Regions from separate parts of the Homo sapiens genome. Here all the other regions are reported to be linked to region 3. Evidence: microRNA targets listed by miRTarBase, many of them from high-throughput screens and not tested one by one. Region 3 holds a microRNA gene; each other region holds the end of a gene's coding sequence.
The links. Region 3 holds the annotated microRNA hsa-miR-616-5p (ACUCAAAACCCUUCAGUGACUU, at 2,438-2,459, opposite strand). A microRNA usually pairs through its seed, bases 2 to 8, with sites in the 3' UTR of a target mRNA and lowers its output. Matches are read on the target gene's strand: a 7mer-m8 pairs with bases 2 to 8, a 7mer-A1 pairs with bases 2 to 7 and ends in A, and an 8mer does both.

Region 1 (11,172 bases), not on the chromosome of region 3:
CTGATTTTTACACCTCCCTGACATAATGTCAGCAACAATCAATGTAACAAAAAACAGACAACAGCTTTGACATGTCTTAAAAATCAGAAATACGTTATTTTATCTCAAAAAATATTATTCATATACGCATAGAACACAATTAAAAAAGCAAAAAAACTTTATTAAAGAAAAAAGCAAATCTGAACGTTTAAAAATGTTGTAGAAAGGATTAAAAATAAAGAGGCAGCGACAAAATGTACTAAAAAATGTTTTCTTTCCATGAAAGGACTGAGTAAATTTTGACCTGAATTTTTTTGTACTTTATGCATTTTCGACAGTGACTATACTATTATTGACTGAAATTATTCTTAAGGGAGGTAAACGATATTGAGCACATCAAAAAATACTATATGCACTTACCTATGTTCAACTTCTAGATGCCATACATATCCTGAAGGATTTCAAAAATCTGACCTCCTAAAAGGACACAGCTTATTAAAGTTAATTCAGCTTGTGTTTTAGTACTTTGATGGTAGGAAGGACAGAGCTCCAAGAGTGGGGGAGGGCTGGGTTTCAGTGCCAGGTCTCAGGTTAGCAAAAAATCTTGGAGAACCTTAATCTCTCTGGGTCTGGCTCATACATCTGCAAAATAAGGTGTGCTGAACAAGACCACTGAAGTGTCTTCCAACTCAAAACCAGACTGAGAAATAGAACATAGATTAAGTCTTCAGCCTAAATCTTACAGCATAGTGACTGGTACAGCGTAGATGCTTGATGTACACTTAGTGAAAGAAAGGAAATTTTAAAAAAGTAAACTATTTAAATCAGAGCTTCCCACACATAAGCCCTGGTGTGCTGCTTGGCCTAGAAGTGGTTGTACGTGTGTGGAGATAAAGGTTCCCCCTCAGGACAGGCACTCATGACATAAACGAGCTTGGGAAGCACAACTTTTAAAATGTACTACTATTTCAGCAAAAAATAAAATAAATTTTCATTATTAGGATGAGGATAAGTTTCAGACTAAATTTATGAAAAGTTCTTACCACCCTTTATGTAGGAAAGACCGAATGCTTGGCTTATCATCTGGTCCTCAGGCCATCTTAAGACAGAAAACATAAGTAGCAGTTTACTTAAGCAAAGAGGACTTCTTTATGCAATGTATGAATAGAACACAGGTACTTCTTTAAGAGTAACCCCTGAAAAACAGAATACATTCAACATATAGTTCTCTACATACAGAAAACACACTGCAGCAACCATTCTCAAGAGATGAAATTTCTACTAAAGAACATTTCATAAAGTAACAACTGCAATTTCTGCTTCAGCATTTCTAGTAATATCTGCTTAACCTTTCTGATAGTCACCCAGGTTTTTTTTTTCTTGGTGTGAAAATCTGCATTATTTCTTATAATTACTACTACACCTAAGGCATAACAAAACATTTTTAAAGAAATAGATGATCTACAACATGGATGTAAAAGTACGGGGATTTTCTTTCAACAAGGTGCTCAATGGTACTTCCTGATGGGCTGCTTTTTTTCTTCAAGGTCCAAGGAATGAAGCACTGCATCTTTTGGATGCCTACATAGATTTATGGGTCATGACCTCCCTCCCCCATTCTCATGGCCAGCTGCTGCACCTTTGCCACACTGCAATTAAAAACCCGCAATCCAGATAACAAAACTACCTTGCCAACTGTGTTTCATTCCAAAGAGTGAGTCACCCTGAGAATGGCTGCTGGTCTCATCATGTCTGCAAGAAAATCCGCAGATGGGCGGGTTGTTTCTGAAGCATGCATTCAACAGGACGAGGAGCATTCTCAAAAGGAGTACACCATGAAAATCAGCATTAGAGGTAGCATGTGGCTATCAACAACCTGTAGGTCAAAGGGCCTTACAGGATTAAAAAAACCCAGCAAGGTTCATCATTGAAATGGTTATTGAGTTTCCAAACACCAAAAAAAAAAAAAAAAAAAAAAAAGGGCATCCTATCAAACTAAAACCTCATCTTGCATATATCTGAGAAGTATTTGAATTTTATAATTTTTCCCTCACCTTCGATGAAGGTGATGCTTGAGTGATACAGGTAAGAAGAGTGTAAAATTCATATCCAAGAAAGGAATGAATCAGGTACTGTAACACTAGAAATAGTATAAATCCTAAAAAATGATAACTTTTATCATCTGAACAATAGAGTTTTTTAGGTATAATAGTGGGAGAAAAAGATCAGTATTCTGTTGCTGGAGAGATTCTATTTTTGTTTGATCTTTTCACATACACTGACTGCCTGACACACCCCAAATAAATGTCTCTTTTAAAAGAGAGGAATGTCCCTACCAAGTTCTACGGAACTCCCCAAACCACACATAACCTATCATGGCAAGTAATTTTTAGTGTTGCAGTAGAAATGGGCAAGAAAAAAAGTTTTGCTGTTTAGGTATTTTTTAGACTTAACTAGTCATGGGCACAAACTCCTAAGTCTAGACTGAATATGACTTATTAATTCTCCAGAAATAATAGAGGTAGAGGCTTGCCTATGTCTTTGATCCCAGGGATGTCTTCTTGAATTGCCTCCCCGGGTATCTTTTAAAATCCCACCTACCCTTACTGATGCAGCTCAACTGCTGCCACTTCTGTGTGGCTCAGCATTCCCATCCCAGGAACAACCTTCTCCACGACTACATGCAACATTAGGAGTCTCCCCACTTCCTCCTCTTTTAATGCACTTTGTGTACAACACTTTACTGTAGTTACTTACAGATGTAATCTTCTAGAGCATGACAGGCTCCAGGAGAGCAGAAAGGCGTATGTCTTCCACACATTTATGTCTGCAGAAATAGACTGTTTTCTTGTATTTATAAGGTTGCTATAAGGTATTTATTTGAAAAAACACCTATGAGTGATTTTGAGGCTGAGTATTAACGTAGTCTTCACCCATATCTTTAGTTACTTAAACCAAAAGTAATGTTAATACTAAGTTTAAGATCCTAAGATAGTGGTGAGTCTTAAGGTAGGGTAAAACCCATCAAGCATACTTATAATATCCAGGGTACTTTACTATATTAGTACATTCAAAATCGTCACTCCATAGTTTATGTTTAGAGAGAGCAAGACTATCCAGCCAGATACCTCACGCCATCCAGTTATTCAGATCGACAGTGTCTTATCGTTTATTAGTAGCTTTGCGTTTTTTAAAGAGAGGATCTGGACAACTTGAGCATGGCAGCGTTCAAAGATTTGCAAAACTAAGTGATACCACTGTCAGACTGAAAATTAAACAATCAGCCAACAATTAGTCCAAGAAAGGAAAAGAAGCATCTGTAAGAGGAGTAGAACAGGTTTTACTTTTGTGAGTTGTAACTGCATTTATAAAAACTACAGCAAAGTAGCTTGACAGCTGCTCCTGGGCTCTCATAGCACTTAGGACGTTGCAGTCGTAACCTGCTGGCTTGTTAGTCCTCCCTTCCAGGTGGTATCCAAGAAGGTAAGAGCAGTATTTTGCTCACTTTTATAGACCCAGGGCACAGTATGGTAGATAGTTAACTATGTGCTGACCAACCAAAAAATCTTTATTTTTATGAGCCAGAATTCTAGAAAGGTTAATTTCAATAAGGTCCATCCTATATCCACAGGATGCCTGTAATAGTGGTGTAAATATTCAATCTTTGCAACTTGAAGGGAGATGGGCCTACTTTTGGAAATTTTCAGAGGAGGAGTGTGACTACTACTAGAAGTAGAAAAATATGGGCTATTAACTGCAATGACAGACTATAAATGCTCTTCATCCAATAATAATAAACTGTCACGATTTTATCAGTATTTGTTTGGTCCCACTGTTTGAGGTTCCACTATAATAGAGGCATAAAAAAGCTAAATGCCCCTCTTTTTTTCTTCTACCCAATAAAAGGTATATGGCCTATTGCTCCATAAGTAGGTTAATAGGCCTAGGTACTACAATTTCAACAAACTTATTAAAAAACACATTTTCTTTGTTCTAGGTAACGCTGTAAGCAAGCAGTTGTCAGTTTCCACTACAATTCATTTGTAAACCTCTTATAAAAAGTAGAAATCTTGCAATCTGTTTATCTTAAAAAAACAGAATGGTTAAATTGCTAACATTTTTTTCTCAGATTATAATAATGTAAAATGATGTTAACATTAAGAATTTCACGTAGGCCGCTCTAAAACTGAATTTCAATATTGTTCAGATAATTTCCAAGCACAGGTTAAAAAAAAAAAAAAAAAAAAGGGAGAAAGACGAAATTTCTCCTCAAATATACCAGTAGTTACTATACCAACTTCCTTTGCTGAGAATTTTTCCACTATCTGCTCAATTATAAAAGAACTGCTGACATGCAAACCAATCAAAATACCGATAAAACATGCAAGAGGAGAGAGGTGAGGGGAGGATGTTCCAACATCACAAAATTAGAGTATTAAATTCATATAATAAGAAGAGGGAGTATGGAGATTTAAGACTAATTGCATGTTGAAAAAAGGAAGTGTCTTGTCACTCAACTACGCTCTTGACTAGTAGGTTGTGAATTCAAGACAATTACTTTTAGAATGGCTTTTACCAAAAAAGCCGACAGATACAATAAAATTAAAATAAGTCATTTAGTATACTTTGTTTAAAAAAAAAGTGTTTCATTATTATACTCATTTGTCTGAAGTTCTATAGAAGTAGAATCCTTTCACAAAAGATCAGCAGGAAATCCTTTTAACCTTCACAGATCTGTTAAGGGTGTATACAAGAACTGAACTTCTATGCGAAATACGGGGTTGGCAGAGTTCATGGTTTGTAACGTGTGTGACACACAACAACACTAACTTAACAGAAACTGAATTTCTGATTTTAGGGAACAATCTCTTGACAATCTAGCATTTGTGCAAAAAAGTAACTTTCACACAGCAACACTTAATCCCATGAGGGAATTAAAGATTGCCAGTGGAAGCCGAGTAAGCTACTTTCCTCCTGTTTGGTTTTTAACTGACGTGTAAGGGTGATTATCTGTGCAAAAAGCTGAAGGTTGAATCCCAGCCATAAAATGGTGTCGATATCCGATTTCCCAAACTTTACAACTAGCAGATGAGAGTATGTTCTCCTGTGAGAATTACTCATTTAGCAGTATTTGAAAACTAATCAGAAGGTGTCATTCAGTCCAAAAATTTTCTGCACGTTCTACTTCAATTAACTTGCCTTTTGGAATTCTAAGAGGTAACACTGCTTTCCACTAAAACTCTCAGGGAACTTCTTTTAATTCAAGAAAGCAAGTCTGCTTATTAGACTGAGCACAGGTGCCCCCGAATTGTGTATAAAGACCTACTCACCACACTGTTCTTTCCCTTCAACTTTGTTTATTGATGTACTGAACATGAAAAAGTACAAAGAATCCAAACACAAAAGAAAACATGTACAGCCTCTTAAATACTCAACAGAATATATTTTCTATTCCAACAGATGTGAATTAAGTCATACTGTACAACTTCAAATAAATACCAGCCTTACATTTTATTAAGTGCTCTGATAAAACACTGTAAAGTGAAGCACAATTTGCATGCCCTCTCATCAATGCCTTGGTTTGCTACAGTAGTATAGGAAAGAAGCATGTAGCTGCTGTTTTCCCTTGAGGGAAACCTTATTATTTTTTTTTAAGTATATACATGTATTTTATTTTTTAGTGTTTTTCTTTTTTTAAACGCAGAAGGTTAACTCTGGCAATCTAAATGCACCTAAGGATATGAGAAAGTGCTAAGCCAATTGATTTCTGAATAGCATTGAGTGGGTCAGCATGAAAACTCGCTTATTCACTTTAGCACGCGCCTCACAGTATATGTACTGTACTATACTGAAAAATTTTATAACTACAATTTTAAATAATAAAAAATAAAACTCAAAGCAACCGCAAAGATAATGTACAACTATGTTATGCATAGCACATTGCCTGTTCTAAGGGGAAGCATGTGAGCATCTCAGTTTATACAAAAAGCAGGACGTAACTATATAGTTCTCAGTGCATCCTGATGAAGGCATTTTTGCCTTCAGCTTTTTTGAAAATTTATTATAAGCTAGATGCTAATCAGAAAATATTTTGTATTTTTTAAAATTTCTTTCATACATGGTAAAGACTTATTTTATTATTTCCCCAAATAGTGGTTTTTAAGCATCATACAAAGTTAAATTTCAATAGCATACAGATATTTATGATTTTTGTATGAAAAATGTAAGGAAATTTGTTCAAAACCTATGGTTATACTCATTTTTTTATACCACAAACATATTTATAAACCAAAATGTAGCATCACCATAAACAGCTGAAGCTAGACTATCTACAGACAAAATTTGCAACAAATCTGATGCACTGTAAATTCAAGTCCTCAGGACAACAAAAGTGATTAAGCAAGACCTCAAGTAACAATGTTAATGCCATTTACAAAGGAAAAAACTGATACAAAAACATTCAAAACCTGAACATCACTTGGCATGTAAGGGAAAAAAAATTAAATTAGCTGAAAGGTTCATAAACACAAGGTCTTATTTACATTACACAAAGCTCAGGTGTTAGCCTTGAACGTAACTTTCAAAATACCTTCAAATATATCCAACTCAGATCACTTTTGCTGATTTGCTGCAGTACAAATCATGTGCAACGTCTTTTTTCCTTAAGACAAAACAATTCTTCAAACAATACTGCAAGTACATCACTAAACACCATGAGCTCTATCTGAAGGGATTTCTTTAGGAAGAACAGATTTTTTCCCCCATCTCTCGGTAATTTAAATTTCTTGCCTGCTCTTATATATTCTTTTGTAAATTTTTTTTATTTGTTTCAAAATCACAAATCAATGTGAGCCACCTATCACATAATAACCAGGATGATCAGACGCTCCACTGGTGATTACAAAAATGAAACCAGCAGTGTTTCCCCCCATTGATTCTACTCCTTTCATACAAAGATCTCAAAAGTATTTTCTACACCATAAATCTTTCTAAATTTTCCAACCGCTGCAAATTTCCTGGTAAATTTTAAAAGCTCACTAGGTGTCATATGAAGAGATTTCTCAAAGTATTCAAGTCAAAATATTTGTTCCAGGACCAGTAAAAAGTTTCTCCAAATTTTCTTTTTTATAAAAATAGATGCTTTTTTTAAACCCACATCAAAGAGGCTCTTATCTCTTTGGCAAGGTACTGCTTTACGAAAAGTTCTCCAGTATTCTTACAATAAGCGTTTATAATGTAGCCCCCCCTTCCCCAACCCAAATCATAATTACAAAATAAATACTGTTTTAAACTTCATAAATAAAAATGTAAACTTCAAAATACTTTTCTTAAACAGACATAACAGCAATGCTTTAAATGTAAACCAAACACAAAGCTAATCAGAAAAAGGAAAAAAAGGGGGGAAAAAAAAGACACAACCAACTGAAGAATTACAACACAAAGCCTCAATATTTACTCACAGGTTCAAGGCAGTTATGTAAAAAGAAAAGAAATGTCTTCCCTTAGCTGAAACACTTTAAAAGGTCCACCTTCTTCAAAGAAGGCAATAGAATGCAATGTGACAGGTAAAAACCCTGTACCTCTTGTCCATATTCAAACATAAAAGATATTTAAGAAGTTTTAATTCAAATACTAGCAATAAAAAATCTCACATATTTCTTAGGATGCTAAGTAGTCATTTTATCCCCATCTCAACACTGACTTACAAAGACATTTACTAATGTATAAAGTTTCTCTTAACTTGCCTTTGTTGTATAGTTTTCATATATAAATGGACTGAGGACAAGAGCTCATTAGGCTTTGTGCGTTTTGTTTGTCTTAAAGGAGACCTGCAGTACTCTGTCTCCCAGACGGTATCCATTGAGGCTAGCTATCGCCATGGCAGCCTCATCATAGTTTGTCATAGTCACAAATCCAAAACCTTTGCATTTATTGGTGTTAAAGTCACGGATGACCTTCACATTGGTGACAGCTCCAAAAGGCCCAAACATTTGCCACAGGATACTCTCATCTGCGTCAGGAGCCAGGTTGTACACAAATATACACCACCCTGTTCCAGGGTGCCCAGGGATATTAATTCCAGCCAAACTGGTCATTCCGTCAATGGTCATTGGAGAAAACCTGCTAAACAGAATAGGAAATACACACATACACACAAAAAATAAAAACAGAGGTTGGTTATAGCAATGAACGTATACCTTTTCCATCCCCAAGAATTTTAGTAACTCTCCTCCCCCAACAAATATATAAACTATTTCATGTTTTGACCAAGGTCTGTGTGTGGCTTTGCAGTGACATGCTAGACTACTGAGATATTAATAAGTTATGAAATGACCATTATTCACTGTACTGAATATCATCCACAATAGCAAAGAAATATATTTAGAACTGGCTTCATGAATTAAGCAGGATTGGCAGGGGAAGGGATCAACACATACGTAAACATGCTGTAACGTCGTAACGCAATACGAAACAAATGATGGGTTTTTAAAAGACCAGGTGGCATCCGGTGGTATAAAAATTTCTTGAGTCAATTGTGCTTCAAAGAGCAGCTTTTCATTAGGTTGCACATGCAAAATAAAACCCAACAAAAACTTATGAGGGGTGTGAATAGCACTCCCAAAATCAAAGAAACCAATCAACTGTGGAAAGGGATTATGAGTATCATGAACCTCTATCATTACCTCTTTACTCCATAAGCCATATTGAGCAGATTGTCCAACCTGCAAAACACACATTTAGCAAACTTCAGTTTTTAATTTTTCCCCTTGATGTTCAAGAAAGTTGGGCTCATTACTGCCATCTTCCGAGGGGATATCTGTACACTGATTATATGTGAAGACTCAGAATGCTGGGTCTTTTTACGTTTTTAAGCTAATGGGCACCGACTGCCACAGGACAGTTCTTCCAATGAATGGTTTCTCTCTACAAGGGTCAGTACATGGGACACAGTGACGGTCATCTGAGGATACCTTTCAGAGAGGAAGTGCGAAAGCTCTGGGATAGTTAACTTTAGGGTTCTCATCAGGTAGCTTCAAAGTGATCAATGTATAGCTACATGTTCTTTATACTACTTTTGATTTTCACAACTCTGTTGGTGCCTGCAGATACCTAAGGCACACAGGGTTTAAGTGGCTTGCTCAAGACCACAGGGCTAGTAAATTATGGCATTGATACTCAAACTCTGCAGGTTACAGAATTCTATACATTTTCCTTTCATTTCCCAACTTTGAAGGGCTTTCATCTTTTAGAATCAAGGAGGTATAATTACAGGTAGAAAAAACCTTATGGACAACCCAAGCTAACCCTCCCATTTCTCAAATGTGCTCAGCTGAGGTCTAGAGAAGGAAAAAAGAAAAATCCATCACTCCAGTGTGCAACAAAGCCAAGAGTTCAGATCCTGATCTGGATGCTGTATTCAAATTACGCTACAGGAAGTGTCGTCCTACTCAGTTTTCAAAGGCCAGGTAGGAAACAAAACAAGCCAATCTGAGCCTCACTTAAAATGTTTATAGAAAGTAAATAGGGGTGGGGGTGGAGGTGTAAGTACTCTTTAAAACCTTCTACATTTTTCCTATATCAAATATTAGTTTTACAGCATTTGACTCTTCTTTATCAGTTTCAAAACACCACTCTAATGTCCCAAATTTCCACAGTGCTTACCAACTAATTATGTGTTCTGAGGAGGAGGCATAACTTAATACATAGTCCACAACCACCCTCAACTGCTACAATGCTCAACACTCTCCAAAGACATCCCAGGGTTGTCCCTCTGGGACTGGGGGTGGGGGTGAGAATTTTTTCTTTAACACCCGTGAAAGGTAAGTTTGAAAAGTCTCAGCCTTATCACCTAACCTGTGGCATCAAGTCACGCTAAAGTATACATGCAAAAGCCAACACCTTTTAGTTTTGTAAAAGCCAAAACACATCTCATCTGGTCTTTCAGAATGGGGAAATATATAGCCTCCCACATCCCTGCCCTCAGTCTCCACTGAAAATTCTGTTTTGTAAAGATGAGAAGAACTGAGCTTATGCAAAGTGTAAGGAAACAGAACAGATCACAATGACAAAAGATCTTCGTGTGTGAGTGTGTCTCTGTGTGCGTGGTGCGTGTGTGTGTGTGCGTGCCTTGACCCACCACCCTCTCATTGCACCACTGAGCACAAGCCAGGGTCACTGATAGTTTATAATAAATATGTGATGACCAAATAAAGACAATGAGGTTACCAAAATTATGGTCAACTTAGTCCAGAATGAAAACTAGTAAGAGGATTGGTTGGATGACCTTGTCTGCACATAAGTAAAAAGATGTGGGGTTTTATTTTTTGCAGAGGTGAGTACAGTCAAAGATGCCATGCCTTTATAGTCAAGAATAAGGATCACAACTACCAGCAATAAAGACAAACACATATTAGCACCACCAATCATAAAGTAACAATACAATTTTATCAAATTGCTGGAATGATCAACACAGAATGCATTTGGCATATGCTACCTGTAGAAGAGAACCGCATACTGAGGTCTCCAACCAAAGTGCTAGAAGACCCAGAATGCAGAGGCACCTTATCAATTCACTCAAAAGTTACATCATCTATGCCCATTAATTGCATCCATGTAGGGACAGGTCATGCTTTGCTACCACCCACTCAGGACACCAAGCATACGGCCCAGAGACAGATGAGTTTTCAGAATTTTCAAACAGGGTAGAAACCAAATCTGCCCCTGAAGTGAATTACCGTCAGGCCTTTTTTAACAATGGGGATATGTTCTGAAAATGTGTCACTAGGTGATCTCGTTGTTGTACGATCATAGAATGCACTTATACAAACCTAGATGGTAATAGCCTACCACACACCTAGTTATATGGTATGGGCTATGGCTCCCAGTCTACAAACCTGTATAACATGTCACTGTACTGAATACTGTAGGTAATTCTAACACAATGCTAAGTATTGTGTATTTAACCATATCTAAACATAGAAAAGGTAATGCATTGCACAATATTAGGATGACTATGATATCACTAGACAATAGGAATTTTTTGCAGTCTACTATATTATGGTACCACGGTCGTACATGTGATTAACTGAAACGTTATGTGATGCATGACTGTACATGCAGTGAGGGAGAAACATTTCGTTTTCCATCCTCCATCTCCCTCACTTCCATCTCTGGCATCCCCAGACAGGAGGT
Region 2 (11,172 bases), not on the chromosome of region 3:
GAAAAATAAGTTTTCCAAAATAAGGTTTGCAGAGCCTTAAAGAAGGACAAGAGGGCCCTAAAACTCCTTGAACCACCTTCCTCACATAGTATCAGTTGGACAAAGTTTTCAGTTGCCAAAACAAAAGCACAATTTCTCATCTTCCAAAACTACCTTGAAAGTTGATGTTATTAAGCTTGTTCTGCAGGAGAGCAAAATATCTCTTAGGGAAAAAAAATGGAAAACTTAGTCAAGCCAGTGACCAACTCTGGCATCATACAGGTCAATAATCCAATGAACACTAGTTTGAACAGAGTCAGTGTTTTTTGGAAATTTAAACTGAATTCAGTTAAAACAATTTGTGCACAGAGACTGGCAAAAAAGCAGCTATCTATTGAACCAGGGGCACTTTGGATGCCTGAAGTGCTAGATTACATTTTGAGAACTAGGAAGTACCAAGGGGTGTGTGTATGTGCCCATATTCAGGGTTGGAGAGGATGGAAGAACATGTCTAACCCATCAAAATTATTTGTTAAAAAGTGGGTTTTTGGTCGAGAACCCATTTGGAAAACCTTCCAACTCAGAGCATATTCTATGACCTTCATGATGAGTACTGGGAAAATCAGACTTAAAATTCCAACAACTTTGAATAATTTACAAAAACAGTCACAAAAACACCAGAATATCAAGTTTGAAGGGAAAATTAGTCTCCTGTCCTTCAAAACAAGGACAAGAGCTATTTCCTATCTTTCTTTCAGCATCAACAGGCTTTGTAGGAATGGAAAAGTACATTTAAAGGGTTGTCCTGAGAAGGCCAAGTCCCTTAACCTTTCTATTCTTGTTAGAGGAGGTACAGTGTGGCTGAGGCGGAGAGCAACCACACTTTGCAACTCTCCAGGCCTGGCACTCTGAAGGGCAAAGAAATGCCAGAGAATATGGGGGAAGCCCAGACCTCCACATTCCCTTAAGGAATTCTGGTGGTGGCAGCACCAGAAACAAGGTAGTCGAGAGAAGGATAAATTCCAAATATACTAGAAACAGAAGGTAACCATTAAATCTTGTTGGCAGATAAAAGTCTTTTTTTGAGTATGTGAATGTGTTCTTACAGGGAAAATGTGTTTTCAGGGTGAACAGTTCCTTTATATGAAGGTAGCATTGTGTCAACAAGAAAACGTGTTTGAAGCAGTCTCTTTACTAGCATTGAAGGATTTATACTAACCTAACCACATGCCTTGACCCAGTTCCTTTGGTAACCAATGGCACGTCATAGCAGATACCCTGTGGCCATAGAGCTCAGTAAACACTGCCTGTTGTACCTCAGGGGCTAAAGCCCAGGGCCTGGCTTCATAGTCTGCACAGGGTCTTACTTATCATAGAGCCTAACGTAGGGTTTTGTTATAATTCCCTCAAACTGGATCATGCCTCTTTTTATTTTGGTTTCACACATAAAATTAAGCAAGAAGTCAAAACATACTTCTTTTTCTTGCTCTGATGTAGGACTGTGTGCCAGGTTAGGCACGTTGACACTTTCAATATGGGTAACTCCATATTAGTCTATTTTGAGGCTCCAAATTATGTAGATTTCAGCAAGAACTCACATGCTTCAGGGAAGAGAAGGAGTTCCTAAAATACCTGACAACTTGGCAACTATCCTCACCAGCTCCCTATTCACTTCCAAAGCAACCCAAAGTGCTGAATCATTTAGGATGGGTTTCCCCTGGAAACTCCATCTGATTGACATAGTGAGGGCCATCAGAATGCTCCCTACAGAATTAAAATCTGAAGACTTAAATGTCAGGCTGGATATTCCTTAATGAAATACATCACACAACACCAGAAGTTTACTTTTCCTCATACCAAAAACTGAAAGAACGGTTACAGGGAGTATCAAAGATATGATTCTTGCCAAAAACAGAAAACGAAGACTTGGAGCATTGAGAAGAAGCCTTCTCACATATAGTTAGTAAACAGAAAGCAAAATATCCCTTCACAAGAACTTGGAAATGCAGCAGCAATTGAAACGTAAAATTTTAGAACCAAACTGGGGAAATCAAGAGACGTACATCAAACTAATAATTACCATGACCTTCTAGCTCACATAACAAAATTAAGCATTTGGTTCCACCATATATTAGGTAGCTGCATTAAAACCCACGACTGGGAAATGAGGGACCTCATGGAAGCCAAAAATGGCCAGCTGTGCCTCTCAGGCCAATGAGGCAATTAAATGAGTGAGTTTTCTCACTGGGGATAAAATTATTCTTGCCAACACAAAATGTTTAATTAAGTTGGCCTGGGTATATTAGGGATTAAGTTAGAGGAGGGAAGCTGCAAACCTGCGCTCCATTTTACAACCCTGAGTCTGGTCATATCCAGTGTAGGCTGGCAGGCGTCTTATTCTCCTTGAGACTAAAACAGGGGTTTTACTCTCTCAGGTAGCCATGATTCATTAATATGTCCTCAGTGTGTAGCTATACTTTTCTTGTGCCCAGGTACTTATTGTCACTCAATACTGTGATTAAATCCTTTCTGCAAAAAAGTGGGTTTTCAGCTCAGGAAAAGAGCAACTTATTTTAAGTTATTTACATCTCTAAACATCATGCTCCCATTTGAACAGATAAAAGTCTTTATTCCCCTGTATGTTTACATAAGAAAGTTCTTTACAGACTTTTTTTTATACAATACTTGTGCAGCAATGTTCAAATTTCACGTTTTTACTGCATAAGATATCTTCATGTACAACTGTATGCTTTGTCTTCTTGGGAAGGACGCGTTAAAGACCTATGATAAACACACATCCACATGACAAAGGAGAGTGCAATAGGGCAGAGTAGAATACTCACAGGAAAAGAGTAAATTCAGGTCACTACATCAAAGTGTGAACCAAGAACGTGTCTTTAATTCTAGCAACTACCACCATTTGGTAACTTCTTTGCATAGGTTAGCATTACCCAAGGAGCCTCCCTATCCCGTATTAGTGAAAGGAAATCTGGGAGAAGCAAAAGAGGTTTCTTGTTATAGATTTCCTAGCACTCATTCTGATTTAAGAAATCTAAGCACATCCAACTTCAGAAACATTACTAATGTGGAAAAAGAAAAGGCTGACTTTGTGTTGATAAAATTATAGCCTTTAGAGAGGAATAAAGATAGCTTTGCAGTATCTGGAGTGTTTCAGGAAAGCTTCCATTCTAAATATTCATGTGATAGTTTTTCTGTTCTGCCAGGCAGCCTCTAATTTGCTTAACCCGGCACACTGGGCAATCCTGTCATTTTCATCCCAAAGCTCAAAGTTAGTGGCTATGGGAGCCTGATAATCTTGCAGACAGAGAAGGTTAAGGACTCTGGGAAATCACAGAAAAACCTTATCAAGAGAGACTTTATTTTGGCCCAAGGTATCTATAGCATGTATTTATTTAGCTGAGTGCAGATCCCTCCACATCATAGGCTGTCAGCCCCAAAGATCCCTTCATTCCCACAGCACTGCTGAAGGCAGAACTGTTCCTAACCTGGGGAAGGTTATATTGGTTGATCAATTATCTGTCAGGAGAGTAGGAAATAAGTAATCAAAACAACCAAAAGTATTAATAATAAAACAAATATTACATCTTGAGAAAGTAGTTCGTTTCTTGGGTTTGTTTTTCCACAAGTATTAGCAATCCAAGTTGTGTAATTCTAATTCAGGAAGAGCGAAGTCCAATATCAAATAACACTGAACAAAGTGACAACTTCTTTCAGAGGTGTTTTAATACCCATATCTTTCAATGTTTTAAACCATTCTAAAGACTAAGGAATCACAGAAGTTTCCTTATTCAGAAAATTACAGAAATTAAGTCTTAATCATGTTCACTTTCTATTATAAGGTCCTCTCTGAGAATTTTTTGTGGATTATCCTTTTTACTGTCTTCAACAGTAACCACTCTTCATCTTACAGGGTTGAATTTGCTTTCTGGAAATGGCTAAATGTTACTCAGAACCAAGAGTAGTAGAAAAAGTAGACAAAGAAAGAATATACTTCCAGGTGCTTTCTCAAAGTGATACTAATTAAATAATATAGCTGATTTTCTTATACCTTATTACCTTCCTTGATATTATTTCTAAGGAGAGGAGTTTCAAAAATAACTTTAAGGATGGCAGCATCATTAGAATAAGTATTAACTTCTTAAGTAAAACTAGATGACATTGAGGGGAACAACACTTAATTAGATGTCAAAATTCTGATATGTCTGCTAAAGAAATCATTAATTATAATAATTATAATCATACTTAGAAGTGTCCACTTAAGCCTTATCTCCTCTGAGGTATGTATTTTTGAAAACATTGGGACTCATTTGAATGTTGTAAAGGGAAAAATCAATTTGTCATGTTTTCTGCTATAGTTACTCCTCTTACATAGCTGGAATAAAAGCAAATCAGAAACATATGCTTATAGTATTTGCCCGTTTTAAACTGGTAGATGCCTGATTATACATTTAAAAAGAAATCTTCTGATACCATTTTATTAGAATAGGTAGGTGTGTGTCCACGCATGTGTTTCTGTAATACTTAAAAAGGAAAATCTCTAAGATTATGATTTAGGCTTCTATTCAGATAATCAAGAAAGAGCAAGTTAGTAAAAGCCCATTATAATTCTTTAAAATGTAAACACTGCTACCGTAATAGCAGGAACTACAGAAGATAACTGAAGAACATCAGGATTATATAAATCCTTCATAGCCCTTCTCAATATAATAATATATACTTAGGACCCTATACTTCTATAATCTTAAAGACCATCTAGTCCAAACCCATCGTATAACTCTAAGGAACAGCAACTCTGAGAGGTGAAGTGCCTGCTGAAGGTCACTCAGCCAGTGGCTGGCAAGGGCCAGGATGAGATCCCAGGTGGCCTGTCCTGCCCAGGCCTCTTCTCCCCCGACCCTGTTCAATCCAGCTCAGGTCCCACACCTGTAAAATGAAGAGGATGGTGGACTAGAGGATGGTCTCAAAGGTCCCTTTGTAGCTCAGGCTATGATTCCACAGGTACCAGGACACTATGCTCAACTCAAATAAACTCTTTCAGCTCAGGGATGATGCTCTAAACCAAGGAAGGCTCCGTTTACCAAAGCACTCATATGTGTTCCTTAACAGAAAAATAGTTCTCCCCTTTGAGGAGGCCTTACTCTAAATAAGCCCAAGACAATTTCTTGTCATTATCTCCCTTAGGCTTCTACTGCCGTCTCTGGCTTCTAGTCTGCTCATTTTCATTAACTGCCTCCATTAAGCTTTACTGAGCCAAATGACTAGATAATATATTTCAATGTAATTATGGGTAATATATGAAAAGAACAATTTAGAGATACCTAATTTCTAAACTGTACTCTTCATAGTTTCAATTAAATTGAGAAACTAGATATTTCATTATATTTCTAACATGTATATACGAAAAAAATCAAATATGAAAACATAGAACTCAAACATTATTCTTATTTAAAAATAAACATTTCCTTCATTAATTTATACATTCTTTCTATGTCCAGGAAAGAGAATACAATTCTGACCTGCAGCAATTTTCCTGTCCATAAAGGGGTAAACCAAGTCCTATTTTCACTGCTATCCAACCACAGAGAGCCCTTCGTGGATATCTTTTGCTTTTTAATCCTCGGCAGGAAGCTTGTGCCTCTCTCAGTTTTGGAAATGGTCTGTTATTCAACTAGAGGCCTTTACCTAGCTCATCTTGTTTCAGCCAGCACGGGAAGTATTTAAAGACAGAAGGAAGGCTGGAAGATTCAGACTTTTCCTCCAATGCCTTTCAAAGGCTACTCGCACATTCCTAGGGTCAAACCTTGCCCTCCAGAATGCAGTGTTTTATAGGCTGTTGTTGCTGTTAAACTTTTTTCCCCCATAAAGTGCAAATGTGAGGAAGAAGAAACAAAAGTACTAGATAGCAAAACAAGCAAATGGACTTGGAATTTTATTTGTACAGATCTGATTAACTAAGAGTTTCCCTTTTGATGATGGACAATGGCACTAGAGGAAAAGAACAGGAGTGGGGTTCTCTGTGCCCACTTCTTTTCAAAAGGGTGATTTTATAAAAGTGCTTTCCACATAAGGAAATAAAATACACTTTAATGAGTAAGTACATATAGAGAGGGTGACCATGAGGCATGTTGTCATGTTAGTGCAGGGGCCTTTATTTATTTTATGAACAATATCCTAAAGTTAATAAAGAACTATGCTTTATTATTTTTTTTTAATCTAGGAAGCCAAGGAAAACCAGCTGAACATATTCCATTGGCTGCAGCCTTCAATTTAAACATCAGAAAGAAAGGTAAGCTGGGCACACCCAGATTGTGTCCAGCTTGTCAGCACACTTATTTCTGATTATCTGAAAATAAACAACATGCTTATTCTAGAGACAGAGGACCTGCTGAAAGCTTATAGCACACAAGTCTATTCAAAATGATTCCATATGTTACACTGTAGGATTGTTGTGTAGTTATACAAGGGAAAGAAATCAAAACCCTGTACAGACACCTGATATCAGACTTGAAATGCCAAGTGGAAACAGAACTATTCAGCATCTTCATTTATACACAATTTACAATATTTGATTCAAAATAAAAATCACAAGAAAAATACATCTGTTTCTGCTACAATTCCTTCCCCTCCCCATCCTCCCCCCACCCCCGCCCCAGTGAAAAGTCTTCTAATAAAAGGTATCATATTACCACCGTCTTGTTTTGGTCTAATTCTGAGATCCCACTTGGAACAGTTAACATGAAAAGGAATGGCAATACTTGGGATTTATATAACGTACACATTGTATCCAAGGATCTCAAATACTTGCAGTCACGTCTCCAGATCTGAGAAATCACGGTTCAATGGAAGCCAGAAAGCTGGACGAATGCTGGGCAGGTTGCATGGGGTGTAAAATCCCTTGGCTAAGTCTATGATCAAACAAGGTCAAAGTTGGTTGGCTAGAGCTGGGCTCAATTTCTCTTCTCAAATATATACTACCAGTCAGTAAGTTTTACCCTTTCTTAAACCACACACCCATCTCCAGGCTACTGCCTAGAGTTAAGACCAACTGAAGTAGCCATGTCCTCATGATAATGCATCAGGATAAAAAGCAAAAACAGGGAAATACATTCATCAGCATCTGGCCAAAGGAGACGGGGGTTGGGAGAATTGATCTGGGAGGCCATTCCTAGCAAGAACGAGACAAAAGTGTCAATTCACTAGTTTCAGTTACAGTTAAGCTTTTGGTGGAGTTGATTCCAGCAGAGGTGAAGCTCATGGCATCTAGTGCTTGATTTAAGATAATGCTATTGAAGAAGGGTAATGAGAAAACACAGCAAACTAACAAGGAGGAACTGGCCAAGGAATATCTGGAGGGCCAAAGTGATTTTCTTTCCTTATCATTTCTACAGGAGAAGGCAAGGGGTAGGAGAAAAGGGCTGGAGGGCCCCTTATTTGCAGATTTTTTTAAAAAAATCATTTTTTTCATAACTCCGTAATGAAAATGTATTTTACGGTATGAAGGTTACAGAACTGCATCTGCTACTGGGTCACGGCTACAGGTCTATGAGCTGATCCACCAGCAGTAAAGACCTGGCTAGGTTGGGAAGACTGGACTCAGAGCTCCCACTGCTGTTTCTAGAGTGCCCACCTGGAAGTGGAGAGATAGGAATTCAGTACAAAACATAGAGGGTTAAGGTTTAGATGTGCAGAGCAAGCAAAGAAGAAAAACCAAACCAAAACCAAAACCAAAACAAAAAAAAACCAAAAAAACCAAACCCTAGAGAAGCAATATTTTACATTTGCAAACCCTTACACGTTGATTTTGAAACATGTAAGTTAGCTGTCCACCACCTCCCACCAAAAGCTCAGGCACTCTGTGCACACCACAGTATAGGTAGGACATCTTGCAAAGAGGGCACTATTTTCAAATCAATACTTTTTTTGGTTGAGAATTGCTGGCTATATACCAACTTCCTGATAATATCAAGCCATCTCCCTTTGATAAAGTAAAAATCAATAATTTTTGCTTTGGGGAGAAACTAGTTATTAAGATACTGCAATAAGAACATGCTTTAAAAAATAAATAGATGGTCCCATGGTAATTTAGTGTTTTATGGCATGTTCACATGATTTTCCTCCATCAAAGTTGAAAAAGGATGCTCCATTAATGTCAAAAAGATGTGAATGATACCAAAACACAGCTGTTAATCTCTTTGGGAAAAATATTTATTATGGATTATTCTAATCATGATAAAAAATGTGATGTGCTTTTGATATATACCTTCAGGTTTCCACTGACTAAAGATCATTTTGCTTTTGGCTTCATGGTAAAAACTAACTTTTGGCCAACTGTTAAAGACTTCTCTCTAAATAAACACCACGGTCAAACTTTAAAGATACCTATCTCTATCTATCTCTATTGGTCCAGCCTACAATGATTCTCATTACACCCAATGTCCTTCATTAAATGTTGATGCTTTTCTTCCCCCTTGCAGATTAGGTGCATGACTATTTTGAAGAGAACTGAGGCCAAGCTCTTCTCTTTTCCCCATCCTTTTTCTTACCTTGTGGGTTTTTGGTTATCAATACAGGAATAGGGTCAAACTCATCTTCAGCCACCTTGTCCGAGCCCTCAGGGACATCAAAACCTGAGATGAGATTACTATCTTCTGCAGCTTAATACAGAATGCAAGTACACAAGCAGAAACAACAGAGGCAGAGATTAGCAAATGAGAGAATGTGAAAGAGGCACAAAGATCTCAACTGTACAGCCCTGTTATTTTCAAAGGTGAAAGGATTTATCTTTCTGAGTTGAAATAAAAATAGCAAAACTGGAAAATACAGAGATATAGAAAAAAATGCTTTAGAGTTGGCCATGTTGACTTTTATAATGATTAGGGAAAAGGGTTCTTGGAAGAATTCTATTATTTATAAGACATTAATTATAATTATTGTGAGGTATCTCTTCATTGTCACTAATCCACAAAGGCATAGGAATAAGTCACTTGTCTTCACTGAGGGAACAGAGGCCAAACAATATTTGAAAAACTCAAAACCGGGGCTTGGGGGCAGGGCAGGGGAGGAGGAAGAGAATTGGTGGCTCTTTAAGAAGTAACCACTGTATATAATGCAAACAAAATACTGCTGGAAGGACTCACTGCACTGTGACTGGGAAAAAAAGACACTGAAACAACTCAGAAGCCTCAGGGAACGCTGAGGCACAAGATCACACGCACTGAGGCCTCAAGTAGAAGTTTGTTAGAATAGTCTTCTCCATTCTAATTAAAGCTACCCTAACAGCAAGCAAGTGCTGGCTGAGCACTTATTTTGCAAATGATGCTTCTCTGTAATTCTACATTGCTGCTGACATACTCCTGCCAGACATCACTGTCTAAATAGGTAACTTCCCTCTACATAATCTATAAAAACATAATCATTTTAATGTCATCACGGGTAAAAACAAAAACTCAGCTATTACCATTGCAAACCACAGAGGTGATTATTTTTAGTCATTCTGGGGAGGCTTCCTTCTTGAATTTTCTCCTGAAGGGACTTAAGCTCTTTCTTTTCTACACATTTTCTCTTTCCAGAAGACTACTTTCACTACCCAATCACAGAAAGTTCAGTAACAAAGTAAGCCAGGCATTGAGCCTGACACTGTCACAAACTGCTCATTGAATAGAATCTGATTCAAGCTACCTCTGTCCAGGATTTCAGACCACTATTAACCCAAGACTGAAAAATGAAAATAGTAGATTAGAAAGAGAAATCCAGTAACCAATCATGACTTGAAGGTGAACTAAAATTCAAAACTTCTACAAGTTCAACCTTGCAAGGACTGACTTTTGAGGAAAGATGCTTATTTCTTTATTGCAGTCATCACTATGCAATAACTTTGAATCAGATATGATAAAACCATTTTACATTCTAAGGCCAACAAGCATCATATGATCATTATAGGCAGGCAGTAGATAGTCACTTCAACCATCTACTTGAATTGACTGCAAAGGTATCTAGCTCTTAAAGGTAACATGGAATATCTGCATTCTATGTTCTTGCCAGAAAGCAATACTTTCACCAATCTGTTGTCTAGGGCTTTTTTCAGATTTAATTTTATTTATTTTTAGTACCTGTCTGCTATTTTTTTTGTTTTTTTAGACAGAGTCTTGCTCTGCTGCCCAGGCTGGAGTGCAGTGGTGCGATCATGGCTCACTGCAGCTTTGCCCTCCGGGCCTCAAGCAATCATCCCACCTCAGTCTCCCGAGAAGCTGGTACCACCGGTGCATGCTGCCATGGCTGGCTAATTAAAAAATTTTTTTGTAGAGACTGAGACTCCGTATGTTGTCCAGGCTGGTCTCAAATTCCTAGGCTCAAGTGATCCTCCCACCTCAGCCTCCCAAAGTGCTGGGATTGCAGGCCTGAGCTACCACAACTGGCCGGTCGTCTAAGTCTTAGTAAATATTCTCACTGAGAGGTATTATAACACAGTATCTAGGAGATACTCAAGTTTTCCATACAAGGAGGTAGTTTTAAAACTTCACTAGTAAAGACTTTTGATAAGAAAAACTTTCAAAAGTTGTTTAGTTCTTTCCCCTCTAAGGACACATGTGGGCCTGAGAAGAAGAAAGCATTTACCTTTATGGACTGGAGCAGAGATTGCTGTGGGGGCAAACTCTTCCAGAAGGTCAGTAGTAGGGTTAGAGAGCAGAGAGCAATCAAGCAGGGAATCTTCCCCGGTGAGAGAATCTGAGTCCAGATTAACAGCATCCCAGGTCAGTGATGGCATTAAGTGGCACACACAACAATATCATGAGATTAGATCTTAGCTTTTAAGTTACTGCATTTACACGTTACACATAAAAGCCAAAGCGGGAGAATAAAAACCAAAAGAAATGTGTGGAGCCTTCTGGATTTTCATCTGTATCATGAGATTAGATCTTAGCTTTTAAGTTACTGCATTTACACGTTACACATACAAGCCAAAGTGGGAGAATGAAAACCAAAAGAAATGTGTGGAGGCTTCTGGATTTTCATCTATAGAAACATGTCTTTCTAGATTCCTCTTAACATTAACATAGAAATAGAGGATAATTTTTTGCTCAGAGGTTGCTGGTTAAATAGGTCTGTGATTTGGATGCTGAGCTAACTTTAGCACCTCAGTTCTTAGTGAATGCCATTTGGGAGAAAAAACTT
Region 3 (7,097 bases):
GGGGGACTGATGCTCCCAATTGTTCATGCTTGGTGCAGATTCACCATTCGGTCAATCAGAGCTCGGCGAGTCGCCTCTACTTCCCTGGTCAGGCGCTCGATTTCCTGCTTGAGCCGTTCATTCTCTTCAGCTAGCTGTGCCACTTTCCTTTCATTCTCCTGTTCTTTCTCCTTCATGCGCTGCTTTCCAGCCCGGGCTGGGGAATGACCACTCTGTTTCCGTTTCCTGGTTCTCCCTTGGTCTTCCTCCTCTTCCTCCTGAGCCAGGGAGCTCTGACTGGAATCTGGAGAGTGAGGGCTCTGGGAGGTGCTTGTGACCTCTGCTGGTTCTGGCTCCTCCTCAGTCAGCCAAGCCAGAGAAGCAGGGTCAAGAGTGGTGAAGATTTTTGATTCTTCCTTCAAGGAAATGAGGAAAGGGAACATAGATATTAGTTGAGAAGGGAAAGGTAACATCCCCCTTTAGCTTTAGGGCTAACATTCTTACCTCTTCATTTCCAGGAGGTGAAACATAGGTACCCCCATTTTCATCTGAAGACAGGACCTCTTGCAGGTCCTCATACCAGGCTTCCAGCTCCCAGCTGGACAGTGTCCCGAAGGAGAAAGGCAATGACTCAGCTGCCATCTCTGCAGTTGGATCAGTCTGGAAAAGCACATCTGCAGGATAATGGGGAGTGGCTGGAACAAGCTCCATGTAGCAAACAGTCTATGCCACAAGTTGGCAAGCTGGTCTGATGCCTGTTTTTGTAGGTAAAGTTGTACTGGAATACAGCCACATCTGTTTATTTACATATTGTTTATGGCTGCTTTGGTGCTACAGTGGCAGAGATGAAGAGTCACGCTAGAGACTATAGGACTTTTAACATCTAAAATATTTACTGTCCTGCCGTTTAAAATTTTTGGAAAAGGGTAGGTTAAGTTTACCTGCTTTCAGGTGTGGTGATGTATGAAGATACACTTCCTTCTTGAACACTGTGGGCAACAAAGAGAAATGTCAGCCATTTTTGGAAGGGGGAGAGGCAACTTACTTTTCTTTTTCTTTTTTTCTTTCTTTTTTTTTTTTTGAGACCAAGTCTTGCTCTGTTGCCAGGCTGAAGTGCAGTGGTGCGATCTCGGCTCACTGCAACCTCTGCCTCCTCGGTTCAAGTGATTCTTCTGCCTCGGCCTCCCGAGTAGCTGGGACTACAGGCGCGTGCCACCACGCCCAGCTAATTTTTGTGTTTTTAGCAGAGATAGGGTTTCACTATGTTGGCCAGGATGGTCTCCATCTCTTAACCTTGTGATCCATCGCTTCCCAAAGTGCTGGGATTATAGGCATGAGCTACCGTGCTGGGCCCTTATTTTTCTTTTACCTCCAGCCTCCTACTGGTCCTTCCTTACTTCTGGTCTTGTGGGGTATGCATACTTGGTCCCTGTAGCCATTTCGAAGGGCAGAAGAGGGCCTGACTTTCTTTATTTTTAGTTGCTGACATTTGTAGTCCTGGTTACATAATAGTAAAGTCCTGGCCAACTCAGCTTTCTCTAAATCCAAAGCAGGCCTCAAATCTGCCAGGGTAAAAACTAAACTACAGGGAAGGGAACAAATCATAGCATTTTCCTAACTCCATTCCCACAGGGCTGACATCCTCCAAATGTACATTTCCAGTCTGGACCTCTTCCAGAACTTCAGACTCTGCTGTCTACTGCCTACTTGCCATTTCTTTTTCAATGTCTAATAGGCACCTAAGACTATGTGCAAAGGCAAACTCTTGCTGATTTTCCCCTTCCAAGGTCATCCCCATCTCAGATGACAACTCTAGTTGCTTAAGCTAAAAACCTTGGTATCATCCTTCATTCCTCTTCTCTCACACCCTGCAATCCAAAGTACTAGCAAATTTTAACTCATTCCTTTTTTTCTGAGACGGGTCTCACTCTTTTTGCCCAGGCTGGAAGGCAGTGGCGCAATCGGCTCACTGCAACCTCCGCCTGCTGGGTTCAAGCGATTCTCCTGCTTCAGCCTCCGGAGTAGCTGGGATTACAGGCATGCACTGCCATGCCCGGCTAATTTTTGTATTTTTAGTAAAGATGGGATTTCACCATGTTGGCCAGGCTGGTCTTGAACTCCTGACCTCAGGTGATCCACCCACCTCTGGTCTCCCAAAGTGCTGGGATTACAGGTGTGAGCCACCATGCCCGGCCCTTAACTCATTCTTTAAAAATGAGTTTTTAAAACCTTTGCTTAGAAGAATCTAAACACTTCTAATTCCATTGTTTCCAATCTAGATCAATTCACTACCATCTCTAAATTACTGCAGAAACTTTCTGACTGCAGAAGGTCTTCCCATTTCTTCTCTTGCCACCCCTCCGCAACTCTATTCACCATACAGCAGCCTGAGTGAGCCTTTTAAAACAGGTCATTCCTCTGCTCAAACCCTCCAATGACTTCCTATTTCATGTCATGGAAGTCACTGAAGGGTTTTGAGTGGAGGAATTACCTAAGGTAATTCCTGACCACCTGATGTAACACTCTGACCTCCATCCTGAACATTCTCCATTCCTTTCTCTGCTTTAGCTTTCTCCGTGGCACTTATATTTTGTTTACTGTAGGCCTCCCACTGAGATGATTTTTTCCTCTTGCTCAAGGATGTACCCTGAGCCCCAAACTGTGTGGCACACAGTAGGTCCTCATTAAGTATTTGTTAAGAATGAATGGATAAACTCCCCCCAGTCTCTCTTATAGGGAAGGGGCAGAAGCAGAGTGGCAGCTGCTGATCCCTAGGGGCTAGAGATGCAATATTGCCCGAAGTATTTCTCTGCAGGGCTGTCCTCCCTGGGGAACCCTCCCTTGCCTTCCAGTGTGTGGGACTTGGCTTTCATCAGCAGTAGAGCCTCAGGTCAGAAGGCTGCAGAGCCAAACGGGGCTGGCCTGATGCAATGGTTACACAGAGATTAGCTGGGAGACAGGACCGGGTTAAAGAGGCAGGGACTAATCCCGAGGGAAGGACAATACCCTGGGGAGACCCCAAATGGCCTCCTACACTTAAGAGATCCAGGCTGCTCTCTTGTGCAGGAGGCCCAGAGACCTCTACGGCAAAAGGAAAACACACCACTCCCTGTCCATCGGCACCCCTCCCAAAGGCTTGTGTCTCCTCAAGGTTCCCCTATCCGCTGCAGGGTCCAGTAGCCCCAGCTACCAAGGTGGCCATGCTGACACCAGAGGCACTGAGACTGAGACAGAATTGGGGGTGGGGTAGGGAGAAGGCCCGCTGGTGGCGAAGCGGCGGAAACGGCCTGAGCGATGGTCACCCAGTCTTAGAGCGGGGGTGTGTCCTGCTGACCTGCCTCCCCGCGGACAGGCCTAACGATGAGGCCTGAAGTTGGCTACGGGAAAGAATGAATTTCCCAAGGGCAACCGAGGTCCCTTTGCCCAGCAGCACAGAGCAGGGCCCGTGTTCCGGCTCCGGGCAGGGGTGGAGAGACGCCGTCGTCCGAAGCAATAGGGGTTTGTAAGCACCACCCCAGAATAAGGGACTCTCCCCATTCCTCTCTCGGACGGTCCCTAACTTCACTGTGGAGGAGTGAGGCCGATCCTAAAGAGCGGACGCCCCAACTTTGAGGAGACGGGAGGGTAAAAGGTAGATGGGAATCAGTACTCGCCTCTCTCCTCAGGTTCCAGCTCTGATTTTGGCTCTGTCGCTGCCACCCGCTCATCTTTAACATGATACGCTCAGTGCCTTAGACTTAAGTCTCTGACCTCGGGAGCGCCTGGCTGTAATCTTTTACCATGGCCTTGCCCTCCTCTCAGGGGCGGGACCCCAAAACCTACCAATCAGAAAGTGGCACGCCGGCATTGGCCCCGCCCCGTCCCTCGCATCCGCCACTCAGGAGCCCCGCGGCACCGCCCCCGTCGCTCCCTCTCGCTAGGGGGTCGACGTAGTGTCGGACCCGGAAGTGGCTTTGGGTCACGAGGCTTCACGGAGGAGGTGGGTGAGTCATGCGCGCGCGCGGAGGGGAGTGTAGCGGGGGGGGAGGGGAGGAAAGGGGGGCGGGGATGATGCAATGTTTGGCAACCGGTGTCTGCACGCGCACGCGCAGGGGACACCGAGGGTGGTGGGAGGTGCGGAGGGTGGGGGAGAGGAGAGAGGGCGGGGCGCCAGCTCCCGGCGCCCAACGGCCCCAACGGCTATCAGCCTTGGTCGCCCCTAGTCGGTCGTGAGCCTCTTTGCCGCTTGTCTCCCCCAGAAGCTGCTGTTCCGCCCACCTAGCTTTACCCGCCGTTTTACCCCCACTATAAGGGACTCCCATATTTCTTGGCCCCTCCCAGCTAATGGGCACATAGGCCTTTTGAACTTTTCTTTTTAAAGTTGGTATCCATCCACTGGGATTGTCGACATCTCGAGTCTTCTTAAAGAGGTCTCCTGGCCGGGCTCAGTGGCTTACGCCTGTAATCCCAGCACTTTGGGAGGCTGAGGAGAGCGGATCACTTGAGGTCAGGAGTTCGAGATCAGCCTGACCAACATGGTGAAACCCCGTCTCTACTAAAAATACAAAAATTAGCCGGGTGTGGTGATGCGCGCCTGTAATCCCAGCTACTCTGGAGGCAGAGGCAGAAGAATCGCTTGAACCCTGGAGGCGGATGTTGCAGTGACCGAGATCGCGCCACTGCACTCCAGCCTGGGTGACAGAGCGAGACTACGTTTCACCAAAAACAAAAAACAAAACAAACAAACAAAAAAACGGGGGTGGTCTCCTGTTCTAGCCCCGTAAATCTCCCAAAAGGGGCCGAGGTACTGGAATCCCTTGGTAGTCATTTTCCGCTTCTCTCAGAACAGCGCCCTTGACTTTTACCTTGTAGTTGGTAAGCCCTCAGCCTGCCAGAAGTCATGTATTTTGCCCAGTGGACCCGATTCTGTTTGGCCACCTATTTTCCCCCACGGTACTCCTATGGCTTTCTCCAAGACCCTCTCTTGCTGTACCAGACAGCAAGTCCTGTGACTCCCTGTGTGAGGAGCGCGGCACAGGCCTGCCTCCTAGGTGTTCGGGTCGAGATTTACAGCGGAGTCTCATCCCGGGACGTGTGAGTGCACTTCAGCGCAGGACTGCCCTGGACTGGGGAGACCGGAGCCGCGATTTTAGACTCAACTCCCCATCACTTGCCAAGGGATCTTACCGTCCTTGTTTGTAAATTAAAGATAAAAGTTGTGAAGGTAAAATGAGAACCATGAACTTGGAGGCAACTTGACCAAAAGTAAAACGCACCACCCAGAATGCAAAGTATTTTTCTTGTGCCTTGAAAACAGAGGCCATGTGGTGGCCTGTTACATATCCTGTCATACCCTCATGGGGGCAGCCAGAGTTTAAGTAGAAACTGTCACAAGGCCGGTTGTGACTGGAGTGGTGTGGCAATGACAGGTCTTTGGTTAGGCTGCTCCGCTGCTCCACACCTCCATTTCCTCTCTGAAAATGGGGGTAGTGTGGAGGGTGGACCAGATGGTCTCCCCTGGCCTAAAGACAGACCAGGTTGTCAGTGACAGGCAGAGGTCATGTGACTTGACAGGCTGAGGTCGTGTTGTGACATGTTGACCTGGGGAGGCGGGTCAAGTCCCAGCACACTACCCGGGAAGCCTTTGGGGCGGGGCAGGGCAAGTCGCGACTTTCATCTTTCGGGGCCTGGCCCCTCCCGGACCTGGCATTCCTGGTTCCCGCAACAGACTGTGGCTTTGGAAGGGGCCCCTCCCTGAGGAGGGCTGGGATTGGCCACCAGTGGCCTGGGAAGAGGCGCAGATCCTTCCGCGGAGGGCGGGGGGGCCGCGTGGGGTGTTTGTTCTCTTGGGGATTAATGGGGGGTTGTGGGGGAGGGGTAGGCGCGCTCCCGCATGCGCACTGCAGCCCCTCCAGTTGGCTCGTCGCTGTCCGCTGGGCGGGGGCCCGGCCCCGCCCCTCTCCCGTCCGGGCAGCGGCGGAGGCGGCGGCTCCTGCGGCGGCGGCTGCGGCAGCGACGGCGGCGGCGGCAGCGGCAGCAGCCTGCGCAGTGCCTTCTGGGAACGGAATCCCCAGGGCTGCCCCTGGCCCCCATGGCGCATGCGCGGGAGGCCGCTCGGTGATCCGCGGCGGCGGCAGCGGCGCTTCCTGCTAGGACCGGCCGGGGCCGTACCGGAGGCTCGGGCTCCACCGACCCTCCTCCCACCCCCTCCCACTCACCCTCTGGGCCGCGACTGCGCAGGGCGGGGCCGGCCGAACCATGGGCCGCGGTGAGTGCGGGGCCCGGCCCCCCCCACCCTGCCCCTCCCCCTCCCGTCCCTACCCTCTGCCCCCTCCGCGTCCTCTCGGCCCCTTTCCCCGGCCCCATCCCCACTCCCCCGCCCTCACCTGCCCCCGCCGCTTCTCCCTCTCACTGCCAGACTTCTGCCTTCCTCACCGCCCTCCCCTCAGTGCTTCGCCCACCCTCCGCCCGCCCTCTCCCCAAGTTCCTTCCTACTTCGTGCGCCTTCCCCTCCTCCTCAAGCTGAGGGAAGCAGTCTGGGTGACAGGGCGCCTTGTTGTGAGAGGGAAAGTTTGGAAGCCGCCAGTGTGGGGTGGGAGCAATGGTGAGGCTGGGGAGGATACCTGCAGGTTGGAGGGGCTTCCCCTTCTATCGGAGGACAGGCTCTCTTGGAGATAATCGGAAGCCAGTGGAATAGGAGGTTCTGAATCCCTTTGCCGTAGGCTTGAGGGAAAATCAGGAGCTTCCCAGGATCCTGGGAGAAGACTGAGCTGTGATCCTCACCTCTTAAGACCCGAATGAACTATATCAGCGATTGTCTGATGGAGCAGGCATGGGGGGAGTTCTGCTGGTACCACCCCAGCGGGCAGTTGGGCAATTGCCTGGTGACCTGTGGGGCAATCTGTACTTTTTATATCATCTTCCTGGGTAGAGAACAACAGGAGCCAGACACTCTGGGAAACTTCCTAGTGGCCTAGCATTATGGGAATGTGCCCATACTCCTGGTTGAAGTCTTCTACTCCGAATGGAGGGAGGCCTTGCCCTTCATATGCCTAAGAATTGGGCTAGACTTTCTTGGTCCCAGGGAGCTGAGGTTCTGACCCTCTGGTCCCTAGGGACTGGGCTTGGAAAGGATGGTT

Region 1: the mRNA of ELAVL2 is a reported target of hsa-miR-616-5p. Seed matches in the 3' UTR shown: 7mer-A1 at 7,039-7,045 and 8mer at 6,937-6,944.
Region 2: miRTarBase lists AAK1 as a target of hsa-miR-616-5p. Seed matches in the 3' UTR shown: 7mer-A1 at 6,959-6,965, 7mer-A1 at 6,792-6,798, 7mer-A1 at 4,959-4,965 and 7mer-A1 at 4,004-4,010.

What each region holds. Positions count from the first base shown.
Region 1 is chr9:23,684,785-23,695,956 of GRCh38, forward strand. ELAVL2 (ELAV like RNA binding protein 2) reads right to left here. Exons shown (of 7, transcript NM_004432.5): 6 at 8,664-8,702; 7 at 5,320-8,100. The coding sequence ends at 7,773. Among named protein-coding and RNA genes, the nearest start is that of ELAVL2, 140 kb to the right of the region's middle.
Region 2 is chr2:69,468,337-69,479,508 of GRCh38, forward strand. It overlaps AAK1 (AP2 associated kinase 1), which reads right to left. Exons shown (of 22, transcript NM_014911.5): 20 at 10,615-10,725; 21 at 8,544-8,654; 22 at 1-7,627. The coding sequence ends at 7,533. Among named protein-coding and RNA genes, the nearest start is that of NFU1, 36 kb to the left of the region's middle.
Region 3 is chr12:57,516,786-57,523,882 of GRCh38, forward strand. MIR616 (microRNA 616) reads right to left here and starts at 2,474; the gene lies at 2,378-2,474. It overlaps DDIT3 (DNA damage inducible transcript 3), which reads right to left and starts at 3,729. Exons shown (of 4, transcript NM_004083.6): 1 at 3,633-3,729; 2 at 921-968; 3 at 484-653; 4 at 1-395. The coding sequence starts at 621. The coding sequence ends at 24. LOC128125814 reads right to left here and starts at 3,695. Exons shown (of 2, transcript NM_001414991.1): 1 at 3,633-3,695; 2 at 927-968. The coding sequence starts at 3,695. The coding sequence ends at 927. MBD6 (methyl-CpG binding domain protein 6) reads left to right here and starts at 6,039. Exons shown (of 13, transcript NM_052897.4): 1 at 6,039-6,226. RefSeq lists enhancers at 2,565-3,526, 3,497-3,626, 3,501-4,700, 3,527-4,486, 4,487-5,447 and 4 more and silencers at 3,697-4,156, 5,871-6,270.